Linked DNA regions of Homo sapiens. The protein of the gene in region 2 interacts with the protein of the main gene of each other region in a biochemical or structural test. Each region holds a gene or a part of one and is shown on either strand. Other genes may lie near its edges.

Region 1 (3,500 bases), on a different chromosome or scaffold from region 2:
TGAGGCAGAAGAACCGCTTGAACCCGGGAGGCAGGGGTTGCAGTGATCTGAGATCCAGCCTGGGCGACAGAAATTCTGTCTCAAAACAGCAACAACAAAAACTATCACTCCTGCCACCACAGAATCTCCCTTGGCAGCAGGGCTCGAAATAACCAACACACGGTCCTTTGACCGGGTCATTCTACCTTCAGAAATCAGTCCTACAGATATCCTCACACACGCGCAAAATGGCATATGGACAGGGTTCTTTCTTTCTTTCCTTCCTTCCTTCCTTCCTTCTTTCTTTCTTTCTTTCTTTCTTTTCTTTCTTCTTTCTTTCTTTCTTAGACGAGTCTCGCTCTGTCGCCCAGGCTGGAGTGCAGTGGCGCGATCTCGGCTCACTGCAAGCTCTGCTTCCCGGGTTCACGCCATTCTCCTGCCTCAGCCTCCTGAGTAGCTGGGACTACAGGTGCCCGCCACCACGCCCGGCTAATTTTTTGTTATTTTTAGTAGAGACGGGGTTTCACCGTGTTAGCCAGGAAGGTCTCGATCTCCTGACCTCGTGATCTGCCCGCCTCGGCCTCCCAAAGTGCTGGGATCACAGGCGTGAGCCACCGCGCCCGGCCCTTTTGACAGCTTTCTTCTTTTCATTGTATTATTACTATTATTATTTTTGAAATAGGGTCTTGCTACTTCACCCGGGTTGGAGTGCCGTGGTGCTCTCTTGGCTCACTGCAACCTCCGCCTCCCGGGCTCAAGCGATTCTCCAGCTTCAGCTTCCCGAGTAGCTGGAACCACAGAGCGTACCGCCATGCTTGGCTAATTTTGAATTTTTTGTAGAGATGGGGTTTCACTCTGTTGCCCAGGCTGGTCTCAAACTCCTGGGCTCAAGCAATCTGTCCACTTCAGCCTCCCAAATTCCTGGGATTACAGGCATGAGCCACCACACCCATCTTTTCTTCTTTTAAGATGCAAGATGTCACTGTGTCACCCAGGCTGGAGTGCAGTCGTGTGATCATAGCTAACTGCAGCCTTGACCTCCTGAGCTCAAGTGATCCTCCTGCCTCTGCCTCCTGAGTAGCTGGGACTACAGGTGTGCGCCACCACACTCAGCTAATTTTTTTTTTTTTTTTTTGTAGAGACGAGGTCTTGCTATGTTGCCCAGGCTGGTCTTCAACTGCTGATAACTAGCATTTATAAATGCATCATTTTTTTTTGTATCGTTGTTCTGTATGTCAGCTATACAAAAAAAATGGGAGGTCGAGGCAGGAGGATCACTTGAGCTTAGGAATTTGAGGCAGTTGTGGTGACAGAGGGAAACCTTGACTTTAAATAAAATAAAATAAGGCCAGGCACAGTGGCTCATGCCTGTAATCCCAGCACTTTGGGAGGCTGAGGCGGGTGGATCACCTGATGTCAGGAGATCGAGACCAGCCTGACCAACATGGTGAAACCCCGTCTCTACTAAAAATACAAAAATTAGTCGGGCATGGTGGCAGGCACCTGTAGTCCTAGCTACCTGGGGGCTGAGGTATGAGAATCACTTGAGCCCAGGAGGTGGAGGCTACAGTGAGCCGAGACTGTGGCACTGCACTTAGCCTGGACGACGGACCATGACTCTGTCTCAAAAAATAAACAAATAAAATAAAACAAAATAAGCCAGTTATCATTGCCAAAGCAGTCGTTCATTCTCCTTTCCCTTCCTTCATGGCCTGCTGAAGTACTGCCTCCTCCGGGAAGCCTTCCTGGATCTGCAGTGACCCTGCAGGCTCTCTTTCTTTTCTGTACACCTTAATGAACAGTACATCGCCCCATCCTGACCATCAGATCCTAGAGGCTGAGCACACAGCTGGTGCTCACTGCATATCCCTCTAGTTGCCAGGGGCACCCTGGCCTTCACTAGAGATTATCAGGATAACCTTTGGCATTGGAGAAACAGGATTTCAAAACCCTGAGTCTGCCACTTGCATGCTGTGTGACTTAGGGCTCATGGCTTAACCTCTCTGGGCCTTGACCTACCTTCTCATCTGCAAAATGGGTTTGGGTTGTCAAACCTGGCTTATGGGAGCGTGAAGCCCTTGGCAGGGTAGATGGCCTTCAATTGGTGTGCAATGGGCACCATAAGCTCAATAGACCATCCCAGGGATCAAGCCTGCATCAGCTGTGTAGCATTGGGCAAATGACTGAACCTCTCTGTGCCCTTTTTCTCCTATGTAAAATTAAGATAATAAAAGCCCCAGGCGGGGCGCAGTAGCTCATGCCTATAATCCAGCACTGTGAGAGGACAAAGCAGGAGGATCACTTGAGGCTACGAGTTCAAGACCAGCCTGGGAAACATAGCAAGACCCATATCTACAGAAAAAAATTAAAAGAAAAATCAGCTGGGTCTAAACGGGGCACGGTGGCTCACGCCTGTAATCCCAGCACTTTGGGAGGCCGAGGTGGGCAGATCACGAGGTCAGGAGATCGAGACCATCCTGGCTAACATGATGAAACCCTGTCTCCACTAAAAATACAAAAAAAATCCTGGCTAATACAGTTAAACCCCATCTCTACTAAAAAGATACAAAAAATCAGCCAGGTGTGGTGGCGGGCGCCTGTAGTCCCAGCTACTCGGGAGGCTGAGGCAGGAGAATGGTGTGAACCCGGTAGGCGGAGCTTGCAGTGAGCCGAGATCACGCCACTGCACTCCAGCCTAGGTGACAGAGCAAGACTCCGTCTCAAAAAAAAAAAAAAAAAAGAAAAGAAAAATTAGACAGGTGGCGCGGCATGCTCCTGTAGTCCCAGCTGCTGGGGAGGCTGAGGCAGGAGAATGGTGTGAACCCGGTAGGCGGAGCTTGCAGTGAGCCGAGATCACGCCACTGCACTCCAGCCTAGGTGACAGAGCAAGACGCCATCTCAAAAAAAAAAAGAAAAAAGAAAAACAAAATTAGCCAGGCCTGGTGGTGCATGCCTGTAATCTCAGCTACTTGGGAGGCTGAGGCAGGAGAATCACTTGAACCCGGGAGGCAGAGGTGGCAGTGATCCGAGATTGCACCACTGCACTCCAGCCTGGGCAACAGAGCAAGATTCTGTCTCAGAAAAATAAAATAAAATAAAAAAGACAAGAAAAATTAGCTGGGTGTGGTGGTGCACGCCTGTAGTCCCAGCTACTTGGGAGTCTGAGGCAGGAGGATCGCTTGAGGCCAGGAGTTTGAGGCTGCAGTGAGCTAGGATTGCGCCACTGCACTCCAGCCTGGGCGATAGAGTGAGATCCTGTCTCAAAAAAAACTTTTTTAAGATGATAAATAAAGAGCGCCTGGCATATAGCAGGTGCAGCCTCAGTTTTAGCTTTGTTCTTTTTGTTGTTGTTATTGTTGAGACAGTCCTGGTCTGTTGGCCAGGCTGGAGTGCAGTGGTACAATCACAGCTCACTGCAGCCTTGACCTCCTGGGCTCAAGCGATCCTTCCACCTCAGCCTCCCGAGTAGCTGGGACCACAGGCATGTGCCACCATGCCAGGCTAATTTTTGTATTTTTTGT
Region 2 (2,644 bases):
GAAATTTTAGAAACTAAACAGTGTTTAGCTTAGTTCCCTAGATTGTTATACTCTAGAACTGTTAAGACTTATAATAACATAAAAATGCCTCATCCTCAGTCTTTATCTGCTCTTTTAAAACAGACTTTAATAAAATGCATCAGTGACTCAACTATCCACATCCATGTGTCATACTTAAAGGGTAGATAACTAAGAAGAGGCTGTTACCAAACAACTTGTATTTTTATACTTAAGAAAATTATAGAGAAAACATAATCTTACAGAAAAATATATAATATAAAGTAATTTAGTGAATTAGTCTCAAATGCAAGAAAATTCACTGTTATTTTTCTTTCTTTAGAAGCCTGGAAAAACAAATTATTTGCTGAACTTAGCACTTCAGTTTTCTCTTATTCAGGGGAGAAAACTCTCTCATATAAAATGTAAAATATCTTAATATTTATTTTTATAACTTAAATTGACTTTTCTTCTCCATCAAATCAAATGCAATGGAGCAGGAGTTCTGTGTTTGTCACCAATCCTTTATTGAAACTGGTAACTTACACACTTTATAATAGAACAACAAAAATAATGTTCAATATATACAGCCTTCGCATGGACTATCTGACTATACACAGGCAGAGTGATAACACAATCTAATCTTCATCATAATCTGTGCACAAAAAGACACCAAACAGACAACATGTGCACATCACAGTGAAATGACATCACAGGTCCAGTGAAAATTCAGCATAATACAAAATGGACTGCTCTATTGCAAATGACATCTTTCTAAATGCCCAGCTCTTACTCAGTAGTAATTTACCCAGAGTCTGAAGCAGAGATTGGTTGTGTGGCTATAAGTCTCTTGAGTGAGACAACCTCTGCAGATAAGTTTGCTATCCCCTGCTTCAAATACAAGTTCTCTGGGTCAGAAACTTTGTAGCCACTGTCTTTCATTTCAACAACTCCAGTTTTGAAACTATTCTGAGTTTTGCCACTCAGTTCTTTTTGATGCCAGTGCTCCGATTTGAGAGACCAATCTTGAATGTTAGTCACTTGCACTGAGAAAGGAGTAAGAGAAGAATGTACCATACTTGGGGCACTATGCTTTTCGAGTTCGAAATGTCTTTTAGATGTCATGTCAATAGGTGAGGAAAGTTTTTGCGTGGCCTCAAATTCATTATCAAAGGCTTCTACTTTGATCTGCATGGCTTTGGCTTTGATCCGGAGCTTGTGTGGCAAGGCAGAGGAATTCACTTCTGGAACTTTAACCACAGTTGCATGCACATGCTTGAGTTCAACTGGAGAATGGATGGGGCCCTTGGGGACCTGTTGCTCGTCTTCTCCATCAGATGACTTTCCTACCACACCATCATCAGTTTCCGACGTTCTCGGGGAGTTGCTGGAGGATCGGTTGACTTGCAGTAGTGGGGGAGAGTGTGAGTACCCAGAGAAAGAATTCCCCATATAGTTTTGATAGATGGACGCTGTGTAAGAGCCTCGGTCATCTCTTGGCTCCCTTGTGTAGCTCTCTAATTCCATCGGCTCTTGCTTGATAATCTGGAACTTGTTTTCAGGACTTCTGCAGCTTCCCTGCACAGAGCTCTCCTGCGTGTGTTCTACTGAGGACACTTCTGAAACATCGGACAGCGAGCTTTGTGGAGAGTGTTTAATGACAGAAATACAACTACTTGACACCATCGAGGGTTCGTGCTCGTCCACAAATGAACTCACATTGGATTTGGAAGTCTGGTAATCTTGAAAGTACACAGCTGTAGAATTACTGAGTTTCTGAATCTCTTGAGCATATGCTGTGGAGCTAATTAAACCAAACTTTAATTTTAGTGAAAGCAGCTCAGCTTTTAAAGTGGCGTTTTCTTCTCCCAGTGCAATTAGTTTGTTCTCTAAAACCAGGTCATTCAGTCGACGCTTCTCACGAGATCTTTTGGCAGCTTCATTATTTTTCCGCCTTTTTTCCCAATACATAGCATCTTTCTTTTCATCAGGAATGAATTCCCGTTTCCTCCGACATGCAGAAGATTTGTTCTTCCCCACACTTCCTTCACTGAGAAGCAGCTCCTCACCTGTTGTGGAGTCTTCTGACACTTCCGTTAAAGCAGAATTAAGGACCATCATCTTGTCCACATTGCTACTGGCATCAAGAGACGCCTGCTCCTTTTTGACGGTCTGCATTTTTCTCAGCTGCATCAGAAACAACCTTACCCTATCTATGTGTGTAGGAGAACAAATTAATTTCCCCGTATTCTCAAGCTCTTTAAAAACTCTGGTTTAAAATCCATCAATATTCTTCCTTTTGTTCTACCGTCTGGGATAAATCCGTCAGGCTCCTTATTGAATGAAGTTGGGCCTCCTTCGTTATCTGCAATACATGAATAAAAAAAAAACCAGTTATTCACTGGATAAATGTTTATTACAAATTATGTACAAGGAAATATGCTAAGCATTTAGGGCATACAAGCACAGATGAGGCATGGCCACAGTTCTTTCTTTCAACAAGTTAGCATTTTCAAAAAGGAAATAAGTTCCCAAATACCTAAACTATAAAGCTGTAAAGGACAAATCCCTAATGAGGCCTATCAGTAAGAGAATATGTGATCCAGGAAAGTGAGGGAAAAATAAAATAACCTCTGCCCAGAGAGAA

The links. Proteins that work in one complex are often made in the same cells at the same time.
Region 1: the proteins of NFIL3 (region 2) and CREB3L3 interact in a test that uses a peptide from one of them, tested with the Homo sapiens proteins (one large-scale study listed by IntAct).

Annotation. Positions count from the first base shown.
Region 1 is NC_000019.10:4,160,131-4,163,630, reverse strand, and holds part of CREB3L3 (cyclic AMP-responsive element-binding protein 3-like protein 3), read right to left. Parts: intron 1-3,500. UniProt on the Homo sapiens protein: Transcription factor that may act during endoplasmic reticulum stress by activating unfolded protein response target genes. Activated in response to cAMP stimulation. In vitro, binds to the cAMP response element (CRE) and box-B element.
Region 2 is NC_000009.12:91,408,545-91,411,188, forward strand, and holds the end of NFIL3 (nuclear factor interleukin-3-regulated protein), read right to left. Parts: intron 2,637-2,644; exon of another isoform or gene 2,459-2,636; intron 2,363-2,458; 5' UTR 2,191-2,362; coding exon 802-2,190; 3' UTR 501-801; downstream 1-500.